Linked DNA regions of Homo sapiens. The gene in region 1 interacts genetically with each later gene. Each region holds a gene or a part of one and is shown on either strand. Other genes may lie near its edges.

The links. A genetic interaction does not mean that the proteins touch.
Region 2: changes in PRKAB1 (region 1) and SREBF2 together harm fitness less than expected from each alone (positive genetic interaction), as found in Homo sapiens cells (one large-scale study listed by BioGRID).
Region 3: changes in PRKAB1 (region 1) and AKT2 together harm fitness less than expected from each alone (positive genetic interaction), as found in Homo sapiens cells (one large-scale study listed by BioGRID).
Region 4: changes in PRKAB1 (region 1) and DCXR together harm fitness more than expected from each alone (negative genetic interaction), as found in Homo sapiens cells (one large-scale study listed by BioGRID).

The regions. Positions count from the first base shown.
Region 1 is NC_000012.12:119,674,560-119,678,161, forward strand, and holds part of PRKAB1 (5'-AMP-activated protein kinase subunit beta-1), read left to right. Parts: exon of another isoform or gene 1-1,867; intron 1,868-1,977; coding exon 1,978-2,111; intron 2,112-3,602. UniProt on the Homo sapiens protein: Non-catalytic subunit of AMP-activated protein kinase (AMPK), an energy sensor protein kinase that plays a key role in regulating cellular energy metabolism.
Region 2 is NC_000022.11:41,839,518-41,843,119, reverse strand, and holds part of SREBF2 (sterol regulatory element-binding protein 2), read right to left. Parts: intron 1-3,602.
Region 3 is NC_000019.10:40,229,802-40,233,432, reverse strand, and holds the end of AKT2 (RAC-beta serine/threonine-protein kinase), read left to right. Parts: 3' UTR 1-3,116; downstream 3,117-3,631. UniProt on the Homo sapiens protein: Serine/threonine kinase closely related to AKT1 and AKT3. All 3 enzymes, AKT1, AKT2 and AKT3, are collectively known as AKT kinase.
Region 4 is NC_000017.11:82,035,343-82,038,923, reverse strand, and holds DCXR (L-xylulose reductase), read left to right. Parts: upstream 1-1,226; 5' UTR 1,227-1,241; coding exon 1,242-1,293; intron 1,294-1,376; coding exon 1,377-1,474; intron 1,475-1,910; coding exon 1,911-2,065; intron 2,066-2,160; coding exon 2,161-2,203; intron 2,204-2,280; coding exon 2,281-2,380; intron 2,381-2,475; coding exon 2,476-2,540; intron 2,541-2,615; coding exon 2,616-2,733; intron 2,734-2,860; coding exon 2,861-2,964; 3' UTR 2,965-3,066; downstream 3,067-3,581. UniProt on the Homo sapiens protein: Catalyzes the NADPH-dependent reduction of several pentoses, tetroses, trioses, alpha-dicarbonyl compounds and L-xylulose. Participates in the uronate cycle of glucose metabolism.

The sequences.
Region 1 (3,602 bases):
ATAGGCATTTATAGCCCCCACTTAAAGGCCACAGAACTTAATTCCTGTCAGGTTGTTGAAATTTAGCCCTAAGGGAGCTACAAGTCATTTCCCTGGTCATCTCAGGTATTCAGTAGGTCTGCTTGGCCACAGAACGCAGACAGCAGAAATGGAACCATAGCTTGATCTCGTGCCAAGGGCAGGGCTGAAGAGGCCCTGGAGGGTGGCACTGAGTCAGTGACAGCCCAGCACTGGGGAAGCCTGTGTCTCATCCCACTTGTGGTGCCTGAAGAATTTCAGCCTGACAGGTGTAAATGGACACCTCAGTGACCTTAGCAGTCACTTATGTGGTACATTAGCACCTTGTCAGAATCCCTTTGGGGAGGATGCGGCTCCCCACGGGAAACAGCCTGCACAGCCCAACTCTCCTTGATGGGAAGCTATTTGGTACAGAAATACAGACCCAGTAAAACTTCTCCATCTTGTAAGAGCCTTTCAGGCATCGAGGTTTCAATAAATTGCTTTCCCTCCAAGCCCCACAGGAAGAAACTACCTGGAACATGATTCATACAGTTCGGGGGAAGAGGGTTGCGATCTAAAGTGTTCCCCTTCTTGGAGGCGGGGGCTTAACAATTCCTGGACTCTGAGGGAGGCAGTGGAAAGATGCCCTGGCAGAATATCTGGCGCCCTAAGAAAACAGATTCCGTTCGTTGACAGGAGAGTTCTTCATCATTGTCTAGTTAGGCCTGGAAGTTCTGCCACCAGGATTTCTTGTTACCAGTTCAGAAATCACAGTGGTAAAATGATCACAATGGGCTCACTGTGGTTGACAGTTTGTTGAGCAGGACTTGGAAATCCGAAATCTGTGCTTTTATCTGGGTAATTAGTCTTTTAGAGATATCATCTAGTTTTTTTGCAGATAGTTGAGAATCAGGGAATGGAGGAAGTGTGCCCAAATATCCTCCAAAATATATAACTTACTGATACATGTAATTTTAAGCCACTTACAAGCTTTTTAGTCAAATTTCCACCTAGGGAAAGGAAACGGACCCCTCACTGATACGAAGCTAATTCCACGTTCTCTACAGACTTCTGTTTCGACACTTACTTCCTCAAAATGTTATTTACTCCTTATGGCTCAGTTTTCTGCACTTCATGCTTTTCTCAGTTTCTTGCTGTGATATGGTTGGGTCACATAAACGGGGCTTGTCCCCTGAAAAATGACATTGAGGGAATTGGCAGAGCTGGGGCATAGCAGATTTTCCCTGGACCAGTCCCAGGATCTGGCGACCAGAACCATCCCACGCGTTCTTTGGATGATGGCTTGGTACCTTCTGGCTGGCCAAACGTCACTATCCAGTGTTCTAGCATTATGAAATCCTGCTCTTGTAGCAGCTTCTCAGTGTATCTGAATAATCCAGATACTCAAGCAAGAGTTTGGAAGGAACTTGAGTGTAATGGAGTTAAAGAGCCTTTAGATATTGGGCTTTCAATTTTCCCCCCCATTTTGAAATGTGCCTCGTTTAGCCTGTTTTCTCCACGGCCTCTGTGTAAACAGACTGCCTCATCTTCTGTTGCATTGCGGCCGGGGGTGCCCATAACTTGGACTTAGCTACTCAATCCTCACTTAGCCTCCAGCTTCTTTGTGGTTTTGCCAGCCCAGCCTGAAGGGAGAAGGAAGTCTTATTCTGCCGTGCGTGTGGGATTAAGTTATCGAGAATAGCCTCCTTGTGATCTGACGCAGACTCACTGGCTGGGCCGTGTCTTCCACCAGGGCATCTGAGTTGACTACTGAGTTGTATGCTAGTCACCCAGATTCCAAAAGGGTTTTCTCCTCTCCTCTATTCTGCACTCTTGGAACCAGTGCATCCTTCAAGAGAATGTAAATCTGCATTGAGGGAACAAGAGACAAGGAAAATGAGATGATGACAACATAAGTAAGGCTGCTCCTAGAATGCCTGATTTTCAAAGTAAAGTCCTGTTACCATCTCCCAACAGAGCTGTCCAGTTCTCCCCCAGGACCCTACCATCAGGAGCCCTACGTCTGCAAACCCGAAGAGCGCTTTCGGGCACCCCCTATTCTCCCCCCACATCTCCTCCAGGTCATCCTGAACAAGGACACGGGGATTTCCGTAAGTATGTGGGCATCTGCCCGGACCATCCGCCGTGGGTCATGTTCAGTTGCTTTCTTTCCTGTGTCCACCTCTTGCAAAGCAGCTGGTGAGCAAGCTCAGTGTCACCCCCTAGTGTGAACTGTGCCGTTCACCTCTGCTGTGGGGATGGGCTGATAACAAGAGGTTCCCAGTGTGGACACCGCTGCCTCGTCTTGCAAAGCCTTTCTGCACTACTCTTCCTTGTCCTTCACGCCTGCCTCAGTCTAAGCCCTGTTCAATTTACATTTCATGACAAACTGTATCACCATCTCTTCTTAGTAAGCTACATGCTCTGGCCCCCACATTTTAGAATCTAGTTTTAATCATTCAATTGCTTTTAGAAATATCAGTACTCCTGGATCAAAATTTGGGATATCTAGGTAACACACATTTCTCCTCCGGGAAATTATTACATGCAGAAAAGAAGTGTGTGTCCTCCTGGATCTTGAAGAACAGCCAGTTCTGTTGTGATTCTGTTTTCTGTTCCATCTAACCTGGATTGCCTGCCCAGTCCGCCTAGCTCTGGGATGCATGGCACAGCCGTAATTCTTGGGAATCCAGGAATTCAGCTTGGTCCAAGCTACCTCTTAAGAGGCATTGTTTACGAGGTGCTTAAAGTAACCATGCTGCTACTGAACACTCCACCCTGAAGTGGAGGGCATGTGTGCTGAGACGAGGAATGCACGTGTACACATGCAGGTGTCCCTACAGTGGTCCCTGCCGGGCTGCCAGGACAGGGTCTCAGTGCTTGTTACCCTACAGGGTACCCAACAGGGCTTGCCTTTCTCAGGTCACCTCCTGTGCTGGGAGTGCCCCTGCAGCTGGGTAGCCATCCTGGTATAGGCCCAGAAGAGGCCAGTGGTAAGGACAGCACGCCTCAGCTGGCAGGGCCCACCATCTTTCCAGCACTGAGTTGGCAACAGTCTCAAATAGGTCACAGGTGAAGAGTTTCAAGGACATGTAGCTTCTGCCTTAGAAGCACTTAGTTGACACTGCTTCCCTTAGCTCTAACTTTACAAAGGTTGGTGGGTAAGATGACTTTCAGTGCCCTCCTAAGCTAGTGAGGTTTGTTTTTTTTTTTTTTTTTTTTTGAGACGGAGTCTTGCTCTGTTGCCCAGGCTGGAGTGCTGTGGTGCCATCTTGGCTCACTGCAAGCTCCGCCTCCCGAGTTCACGCCATTCTCCTGCCTCAGCCTCCCGAGTAGCTGGGACTACAGGCCCCCGCCACCACGCCCGGCAAATTTTTTGTATTTTTAGTAAAGATGGGGTTTCACCATGTTAGCCAAGATGGTCTCGATCTCCTAGCCTCGTGATCCACCCGCCTCGGCCTCCCAAAGTGCCGGGATTACAGGCGTGAACCACCGTGCCTGGCCAGGTTTTGTTTTTTCTAGAAAAGGGAGGCATCACTAGCCATCTTCTCTGATGGAGACTGCTGCTGGGAATAGACAAGCTGAGAGTGGCCCAGGGGGCT
Region 2 (3,602 bases), on another chromosome or scaffold:
TTGACAACAGGATTCATTCTGAGAAATGTGTCATTAGGCAACTGCTTCATTGTGCAAACATCACAGAGTATACTTACACACACCTAGATGGTATGGCAATAGCTCCATTATAATCTTTTTTTTTTTTTTGAGACGGACGTCTCGCTCTGGTGTCCCAGCTAGAATACAGTGGTGCGATTTCAGCTCACTGCAACCTCCACCTCCTGGATTCAAGCGATTCTCCTGCCTCAGCCTCCCACGTAGCTGGGATTACAGGCTCATGCCACCACGCCCGGCTAATTTTTTGTATTTTTTAGTCGAGACAGGGTTTCACCATGTTAGCCAGGATGGTCTTGATCTCCTGACCCCATGATTCACCCGGCTCGGCCTCCCCAAGTGCTGGGATTATAGGCATGAGCCACTGTGACCAGCCCCTCTTATGTTTTACCTAACTGGATTCTTGCGACAACTATGTCGGAGACAGCACCACCCTGGCTTTGATCCAACAATCCCACTTCTGGTAACCGCTCCTGCCTCTAGACTTGCACATGTGTGAAAGGAAGAATTTACAAAGCTATTCGCAGCATTGTTTTTAATAGCAGAAGACTGAAAATACCTTCAGATGTCCATCAAAAAAGGACTGGATGAATAAATTACAGGGCATCATCAAATGGAAAACCATGCAGCAGTGAAAAAGTCTGGGATGATCTATAAGATACATTGGTAAGCAGAAAGGAAAAGGCAAGGCACAGAAGAACAGGGCTTATAGCATGCTAACTTTTTCAGTCAAAAAGGAAAGCAAAGCAAAAACTAAAATCAATATTTGTTATTAGCTTCTTTTGTAATAACAAATACATTTTGAAGCAGGTAAAAGAAACTAAAAATTTAATTACTTGTGAGGGAGCGGTGGGACTACGCAGATAGTGGGTAGGGCCGGGAGCAAGACTTTTCATAGTACCTTTTTATGTATTTTATTTTGATTCATATGAATGTACTATCTTTTAAAAAAATAAAAATATTTCCAAGTTGTAATTCCCAATCACCATAGTAATTTGCAGCACTGGAAATGTTTTTAAAATGAAAGGGCTACAGCTGATAGTGTGTTACCCAGCTGAACTTGAAGACTCCTCTTTGGAAGATACACGCCCATGAACAAACTCCCAAGTGACTTGTTCACAAGTATTCAGAACAGTGCTTATGTTAAGAAAAAACTGCAAATGATGAAAATGTTCAACAGGTACACAGGTGTGCAAGGGTTTGCCTATTCAGATGGATCACATTAGATTATATGGCTATTACACCTCAACTACTTCAACATACAGCAATCCCTATGTGAAAACACTGTGATATGTACGCAGATAAGCAATGTTCAGACGAGAATCCAGAAGGATACGGACAATTTGATATTTGCAAAGTTCTAATTGAATAAAACTGCTTGAGAATTTCCTTTTTTTAATTACAAATTTGAGGAGTGAAATGATCTAGTTGAGAAAGAAGCAAAAATATATATTTTTTAAAATGCCAAAATATGAACTGAATATGAGAGCTACATAAAAGCCTATTCAATGAGAGGCAAGCAGCATTCAAGAACATTAGGCCAAAGGCCTGGGTGTGAATGTGGGGAATGTTTGTCAAGGGCGAGGCCAAATAGACAGAGGAGGGAGGAGAAACCCAAAGGGACTCTAGTGCCGTGATCTGAGCAACCTCCAAAAACATATCCCAGGAAATGTAACTGGATGAGACCAGGAGACAAAAATGGGTGGAAAATAAATAAGCTGTGGACAACAGCAGCTCTTTCAACCCAAACGTTAGCAACCCTCATATATACTCCAGTGTCAAAACATACCTTATGTCTTTAAAAAGGTACAAAAGGGATGAAAAGCAGATCTGTGCTTCATCTCACTGAGCAGTTTTTCCAAAGCATCCCTCCCTGGAGAAATGTGAAGTCAGTTTCCACTCTTCTCCCACCTCCACCTCCTAGGGGTGTGCTGACCACAACCATCCCCAACACTCACTCCTAGCTCAGCCAGTTGGCCACTCCAACTTTCCCAATGGTGTGAACACCCAGACTGAACTTGAGGTGCTTTCCTTCCCTCATTAGACACACCTTTACAGAGTGCCTATTCAGTGCCAGGTACTGCATGCAGGATACTCTGCCAAAGATGAAACTGGGTGTCTGCAGAGAGAAGCAAGCAGAGGCCCAAATCAGTGCCATGGAAAGGCTCAGGTACTGGAAGTTCCTCTGCAGGCTCAGGTGACAAGGAGGCTGATGGCAGGGGGACTGCATGAATTCAGGTATCAGACACAGCTCTCCAGAGCCCCAACAAGTTGGGACAGTGACTGTCGGCCCAGTCACATCAAGGCACGTTGTCATGGAATTCAGAACATAAAGACAGGATCCCAAAAGCTTCCAGAGAAGAAAACAGGTCACACAAAGGATCAAGAATGGAAATGGCATCAGATTTCTCTACTAGAAGCAAGAAGATAATCAGACAATGCCTTCAAAATTCTGACATAAAACTCTGTCCAACCTAAAATTCTAAACTCAGCCAAACTACCAAAGTGGAATGAGGTTGGTAGAAAGATGTTTTTAGACAGGCAAGGCCTCGAAGAGTTACCTAAATGTACTCTTTCTCAGGAAGCCACTGGAGGATGTGCTCCACTAAAATAAGTGAGTAAAAATCAAGAACTGGGAAAGAAGAGCTTCAACATTGCCCCCAAGGGTGATGGTTAGGGGTTGTCCCAAGATAAGTGAAGGGAGAGCAGACCTAAACCATAGCCATCAGATGGGACAGGAAAGAAAGGAACTGACCACCACATTGCAAGTTTCTGTCACAAGATTTAGGGCAAATTAGTTACAGGAACATAGAAACTAAGCATGTGGGCCGGGCGCGGTGGCTCACGTCTGTAATCCCAGCACTTTGGGAGACCGAGTCGGGTGGATCACAAGGACAGGAGTTCAAGACCAGCCTGGCCAAGATGGTGAAACCCCGTCTCTACTAAAAATACAAAAAATTAGCTGGGTGTGGAGGTGGGTGCCTATAATCCCAGCTACTTGGGAGGCTGAGGCAGAGAACTGCCTGAACCCAGGAGGCAGAGGCTGCAGTGAGCTGAGACCGCGCCACTGCACTTCAGCCTGGGCGACAGAGTGAGACTCCGTCTCAAAAAAAAAAAAAAAAAAAAAGAAACTAAGCATGTGAATAAATGGGACTATTTATTATAAGCTCTTGGAAAACATAAACAACAAAAAATGTAGAAGATCTACCCAAGAGAAATGAACATATATGTCCACACAGCAACTTGTACACAAGTTTGTAGCAGCTTCATTCATAATGTAGCCAGAGTGGAAACGGCCCAAATGTCCACCAACTGAAGAGTAGATAAAACAGAATGCGGTGTGTCCATGCAATGGAACACTACACTGCAACATGATGAACCTAAGCAATATTATGCTACCTGTCTGATTCCATTTATGAGTTGTCCAGAACAGGCAAACTCATCAAGACAGAAAGTAGATCAGCTCATTGAAAAAATTATTCTACTTTCTCCAAAGAGAACTACTTGCTTCCACCTGCCCATCTCCCACTCACCCCTGCTTCCTTTCTGCCTTGGATTCCCTCATC
Region 3 (3,631 bases), on another chromosome or scaffold:
CCCCGTGGCCTAGGCTCGGAGTGGCCAGGCACGGGGCGGTCCAATCCCCCACCCGCTGTCCCCCTATGGGGGCAGAAAAGCAATAATGTCCAGGGGCAGGCAGGGGCCCTTGGGAGCTGCAGGGCTGGGGGTTAGGGCTGCTCCCTGGTGAATGGAGTCAGATCCTAGGATCTGTACCATGGGGAACCAGGAGTGGCCGGGCTGGGTGCCGCCTCCTGGTCCGGCCTCCTCCCCACCAAACTGTCCTCACCCTATGGATGAGGCAGGAGGAACATTTGGGGCCAAACCTGCCTGCCTCCCAGCCCCGTGCCTTACTAGGGCTTCCTTCCAGCTGGCCTTACCTCCCGCTGGACCCTGGGCCTGGCCTGGCCCCACTGGGGGCTATGGGCTGGGCTCACCCTCTCCTCTGCGGGGGTGGAGGGCCACCAGCCTTGGCTGTTACAATCTTACACCGGACAGTATTGGGCCCCATGGACTTGGTCAGGGAGGGGTGGGGGTGGGCATCTCTGGTACCTATTGGGGTGGGGGGCCTCTGAAAAGGGAGGCTCCTAGGCCCCCCTCACCCCTCCCTCTCCCCAGGGCCCCACGTTCTGCAGCCTTAAGGTTGAACATGAGTGCACGTCCATGTCAGTGCTGTGGGACTCCTGTGCGTGCCTCGGACTGCGTGTGTCGGCGGGACGCAGGCACACGTGGGTGTGTGTGCATGTGTGTTTGTGTGAGGGCAGCGTGTCCTCCAGTGTGCATGGTGTGTGGGCTTGGGCCCCATCCCTGGCCCGAGCATTTCATCCTGTGGGGGAGGGGTGCTGACCTAGTGGGAGGAGCCCCACTGTGATCCATGAGCTGCCCTGCCCACGCCTCCCCTCCCTGTAGCAACACCTCTGGGTGTTTGGAGTTTAGCTTTTGTGGGTTTGCTCTCCCTATCCCATCTCCTGTACTACACAGTTCATGGCAGGGTGGGGAGGGGTGGGGTTGGTTCGGGTGGGTGAGGGTCTTTTTCCTCTGTGTGCGATGTTGTTATCTGACAGTTCTCCGTCCCTACTGGCCTTTCTCCTCGTCTTCATATTTGTACGGTACAAGCAATAAAGACACTCATTTCAGACCAGGGCCCAGCCTGCACTCACGCCAGCCCAACCACTCTGGGCTTTGCCTTGGTGATGGAGTCAGACCCCTGGGCCCCAGCTCCTCCTGTACTAGCCGTTCCCTTCAGCAAGGAGGGCACTGAGCTCAGGGTGAGGGCAGCTGGGGTGTGTGCAGGAGCTCAGGCTGGAGAGGGTGGGTGGAGCTGGTGCTGTGGGGCTGAGGGGTATGGGAAGGCTCCCCGCATGTGGGGGTGGGGTGGACAGAGACCACTCCAGGCCCTCAGTGCTGCTTAGGCTAAGAGAGGTGGGGTGGAGGGACAGGGCTGGAAGATCTGGGTAGCCCAGAATGAGGAGGGTGCCTGTGCTGTCACTGAATGAGAGGGAGTGGTTCATTCCACCCGGCTGCCGAGCCTCAGAGGGGGGCATTCCTATCCTGCCCCACCTCCCTGTTTATGCTGCCACCTGGAAGCCTTGAGGCCCCCAAATTCCAGTACAGACCCAGTGGTGTGTTCATGGTGGCGTGGTTGCTGTCACCTGGGAGCTCCTGAGCGTTTGGTTAGAACCCTGTTCAGCTTGGGGTCAGCCCTCCCCTAGTCACTGCCCTTTAGCCTGGATGTGTCTGGGCCCCTGCACTTCCCGTGCTTGAGTCACGTGGCTGCATGGCCGGGCGCTGGCCGGATGGAACACCTCCCCCAGCAAGGGACCAGGGACCAGAGCCCTGGCCTGCCCTGCTGAGCCCTGCTGTGCAGAGGGCCTGGCACAGATGAATTTGAGATTTTGCCGCAAGGTGTTAGCACTTCACACCCATTGAGTCTTTGAGATTTTAAGTGAATGTAAGCAGAAAAAGTCAGATCCAATTTACAGAAATCAGAGTTAGCTACAGCTAGGACTCGTTTGGTTGGGGTTTTTTAGTTTGTCTTTCTAAAGTCATGTGGACCTTAATTTAATTACAAAAGTCTACCCTGGTGGTCATAAAATAGGCAGGCCTATGAAGAAAGGCCTTTTACTCTTCCATCTCGTCCCAGCCCCGAGTTGACCCACGTTGCTGCTCCTCACACCATGGTGATGCAGGTCTCGTAGTGTGGGCACAGGCCTGGCTACCTCATCTTTTTAGTGCCTCTCTCCTCTTCCACAGGATGGGGTCCCACAGCTGCAGCAGCTGGCCCCGTAGTTGAGCATGTGTGGTTATCCTGTAGAGCTTTTCCCAAGAAGGGTGTTTGAACTTAGAGTCTTAATAAAATCTTACCAAATAAATTTTGAGTAGAATAATCGTCTTTTGCAATGTACATTTTAAAAATTTCACACATTCTTTTTTGTATATAAAGAACAGTGACTGGGCACAGTGGCTCATGCCTGTAATCCCAGCAATTTGGGAGGCCGAGGCGGGCGGGTCTCTTGAGGCCAGGGGTTCGAGACCAGCCTGGGCATCATAGGGAGACCTTCATCTCTACAAAAAATACAAAAATTAGCTGGGCATGGTGGTGCATGCCTGCAATCCCAGCTAACTTGGAAGGCTGAGGTGAGGTGGGAAGATCACTTGAGCCCAGGAGTTTGAGGCTGCAGTGAGCTATGATTGCGGCACTGCACTGCAGCCTGGGACAATGAGACTGTGTCTCTAAAAATAAAAAAAAAAAAAACATGATACATGCTATTAAAAAAGACAGCAAAGCAGGAGTATAAGAAAGGAAATTCACCCGAGGTCGCAGGGCCTTGAGTACTCATTTTGGTGCTGATTACCTCTCTGCAAATGGACACGGCATCATAAATTGGTAGTTTCCTGCTCTTTTTGTGTAATCTTTTCCAGTTAATGTGAAGCCTCTGGGGGCTGCCCTCGTGCACTGATGGTTGTGTGGAGTCGGGGGCGGCAGTGCGATTCCCTTTTAGCTGCTGCATGGGGGGAACTCAGGCTTTCCAGCTGCTTCCTGGGGTTCCATGGGGTAGACCCCTCAACCGCTTCAGCTGCCCCGTTAACAGGAATTGACTTGGTTTCGTTTGGTGCTACCAGCAGTCCTGTAATAAACTAGCTATCCATCTGTACTGTGCTGGTGCTTTTGTTTGTCTACATCCCAGGATTTTAATGTCCAGTACCTTTCCAAAAAAGTGTAGCCATTCAGATACTTTAAATTTTGAAATAATTGCAGACTTGCAGAAAACTTTCAAAAATAGTGCTGTACTAAGATTATTCCAGGCCTGGGGCAGGAAATGTACAAGATGAGCCTGGGGCATCTTGCAGTGCCTGAAAGCACGCACTGATATGCTTAAGTCACAGGGACACAGGAGCCAACAGAAAGCTTCCAGTGGCCAAAGCTGAAAAGAATTTGAACAACAAAATAAATAGCATAATATTGGGTTTTCACCTAAAATGTGAAATAAGTCTATTGCTAAGTGGCAAAATGGGGAGAATATGCAAATCTACACAAAATCATAAGTAATTTCTGTAGACAGCCTTCAAGGAGGGCTATGGAACCCCCACTTCTTAGGCGTGGGCTGCAGTGACTCCTCCAAAGAGTGCAGTGTGGAGAGGGGGAAAAGTAACTTTTCAGTGAAGGTCC
Region 4 (3,581 bases), on another chromosome or scaffold:
GAGCAGAGTGTTCCCTGACGCCTCCAAGGAAAGGAGACTCCCCTTCGCAGTCTTCTAAGTAACGGGTGGCTTCCCAGACAACGGCATTACTGCTTGACCAAGGAGCCCTCAAGCAGCCCTTATGCGGGAGTGACAGAGGGCTCACCTCTTGCCTTCTAGGTCACTTCTCACAATGTCCCTAGGTTATATTAGTAATGCAACAAAGAGTAATATTAAAAGCTAATGATTAATAATGTTTATACTAATGATTGATAATTATCCATGATCATGATCATTTTTATATCTAATTTGTATTATGACTATTTTTATTTTAACTGTTTTTTTTTTAAAGATGGAGTCTTGCTCTGTCGCCCAGGCTGGAGTGCAGTGGCGCAATCTCGGCTCACTGCAAGCTCCGCCTCCTGGGTTCGCGCCATTCTCCTGCCTCAGCCTCCTGAGTAGCTGGGACTACAGGTGCCCGCCACCGCGCCCGGCTAATTTTTTGTATTTTTAGTAGAGATGGGGTTTCACCGTGTTAGCCAGGATGGTCTCGATCTCCTGACCTCGTGATCCACCCGCCTCGGCCTCCCAAAGTGCTGGGATTACAGGCGTGAGCCACCGCTCCCGGCCTATTTTCTTTGTTATACTGAAACAGTTTGTGTCTTCAGTCTCTTGCCTTGGCATCTAGGTAATCCTTCGCCCACAGATGAAAGCGGAGCTCTGCTGACATTGGTGTCTTCTCCAGACGTAGTTGGTTGTCCAAATTCTTTCCCTTGGCTTTAAAGTGAGCCGGCGGTGTCCTGCTCCCAAGCCTGAGAGATGATGGGCACAGGCGACACTTTTTAGGACATGCCGATGTTTTCAGAAACAAAACAAGAAATGTTAGCCCTGAAATTCTCCATTTCACGTGTTCTTCCTGATATTAACCACACATTCTTTCCGATATTAACCACCACATCGTCTTTTTGCAATAATCTTGGCAGGGAAAAATATGCTAGCCAGGGTCCACTACGTCGATTTCAAGCACGGAAGATGGGTCACACCAGGCACTTCAAAAGACCCGTCCCTGAGGCAGCGGAGACCCCGCCCCGCCCCGGCGCGCCCACTCCTTTCGGCCAATCACTGCAGCGGGGAGCAGCTATTTGAATGTCCCCACCGCCTATCTGAAGGCCGCCCTGCCATTGGCCCCGCCGCGCCCCGCCCATCGTGGCCAGAGCTTCAAGTTCCGCAGCCCCAGTGCGGAGGGCGGAGACTGCGCCGACATGGAGCTGTTCCTCGCGGGCCGCCGGGTGCTGGTCACCGGGGCAGGCAAAGGTGGGCGGCGGGGAAAGGTGGGCAAAGGCCGGCGGCGGGCAGAGGCGGGCAGGGGACGCCTTCACTGAGCCCGCTCCCGGCAGGTATAGGGCGCGGCACGGTCCAGGCGCTGCACGCGACGGGCGCGCGGGTGGTGGCTGTGAGCCGGACTCAGGCGGATCTTGACAGCCTTGTCCGCGAGGTAGGTCCCGCCGGGTCCCAGCGCTGCGAGGCGGCGAGCCAGGAGGGGGCGGCAGCGAGCGGGGGCGGTACCTCTGTGCGCGACTCCGCCTCCCCTCGCGGGCGCTGCGCTTCTCACCGCGGCCTGGGCGCCCGCGCACCCTCTCTCGGGGCTGGTGGCCTGCGTGGGCGGCCGGGTGGTCGGCAGAGCCGCCGGGGCCCCCGGGCTCAGAAAGAGGCCGAAATGGCTGCGAAGCAGGCCCCGGGCAGGAGTCGCTCGGGCGCAGGGAGGAAGTGAACCGGCCGGAGGTAGCGCCCGGCTGCTGGCCCCACAGTCCCGACACCTTCGGAACTCCTAACTCCTTTACTTGTCCGGCTGAAAGGTCACCAGCCCCAGTCCCCAGCTGTGCCGCTTGCTGGGCACAGAGCCTCTGGTAACTGCCCCCTGATACACACAGTGCCCGGGGATAGAACCCGTGTGCGTGGACCTGGGTGACTGGGAGGCCACCGAGCGGGCGCTGGGCAGCGTGGGCCCCGTGGACCTGCTGGTGAACAACGCCGCTGTCGCCCTGCTGCAGCCCTTCCTGGAGGTCACCAAGGAGGCCTTTGACAGGTGAGCCTGTGAGGGCGGAGGAACCTCAGGGAGGGGCTGTCCTGGAGGACGCAGCAGCCCTAATCTCTGACCAGGGTCTGTCCCTCGGCCTCTAGATCCTTTGAGGTGAACCTGCGTGCGGTCATCCAGGTGTCGCAGGTGAGCTGCCCTGTGGGCTGGACGGGAATTCTCGTGAGTGATGCCAGCTCTGCCTCACGGTCTCGCTGCGATTCCAGATTGTGGCCAGGGGCTTAATAGCCCGGGGAGTCCCAGGGGCCATCGTGAATGTCTCCAGCCAGTGCTCCCAGCGGGCAGTAACTAACCATAGCGTCTACTGTGAGTGCCCCAGCTGTGCCCTCAGCCCCACCCCAGCCCCAGCCTCGCCCTCATCACCGACCCCAGCCCCAGCCAGCTTGGGTTCCTCTTCGTAGGCTCCACCAAGGGTGCCCTGGACATGCTGACCAAGGTGATGGCCCTAGAGCTCGGGCCCCACAAGGTGAGCAGGGCTGGGGTACCTCCCCCAACCTAGGACACCCCACTTGCCCTGCTGACCCCAGCTGTCCCGGTGTAGATCCGAGTGAATGCAGTAAACCCCACAGTGGTGATGACGTCCATGGGCCAGGCCACCTGGAGTGACCCCCACAAGGCCAAGACTATGCTGAACCGAATCCCACTTGGCAAGTTTGCTGGTGAGTCAGGTGGGAGCCCAGCCAGCGTGGTGCCAGCAGTCCCTGTGTGTGCCCTGGGTAGGGGTGGGAGGGAAAGATGGGCGGCAGCCTCCTTCCTCTATGCCCCTGACCCCCGCCCTGCCCACAGAGGTAGAGCACGTGGTGAACGCCATCCTCTTTCTGCTGAGTGACCGAAGTGGCATGACCACGGGTTCCACTTTGCCGGTGGAAGGGGGCTTCTGGGCCTGCTGAGCTCCCTCCACACACCTCAAGCCCCATGCCGTGCTCATCCTACCCCCAATCCCTCCAATAAACCTGATTCTGCTGCCCAGACTATGTGCTATTCCTAGGCTGCCAGCAGGTAGCTGGGGGCTTGGGGCCAGGTGTGGAACGCGGGCAGAGACCCATGACATTCACATTCCAATCCAAGGGGGAGCGTGGCTCCCACTCCTGAGGTTTTCAGGCCTGGCCAGTTCTCTGTCAGGGAGGTGGGAGGTGGTGAAAGGTCACCTCCCAAAGAGGGTGGTGAATTTCAGCAAGGTTGGCCTTCGGGCCTGTCCAGAACCTCTGGGGTGAGACGGTGTGTGCATGTGAGTGTTGATGGCCCCCTCTGTGAGTGTACAGTTGGCTCCTCTTCCTTCAAGCTAATGAGTAAGACAAAAGGGAAACAAGGAGAACGTCAAGCTTCTCCACTTCGTCGGTGATCTGAGCCACTTTGTTGAATCAGATGATGGTTTTCGGAAACTAGAAGAGCGTTTCCTCAACTTGTGCTATTCACAATGTAATGAGCATAGACACAGCACCCTGAAGTCTAATCTGCATTTTATCATCTGAAGTCTAGACAAGTAACCATAAGTCAAGCCTCCTCC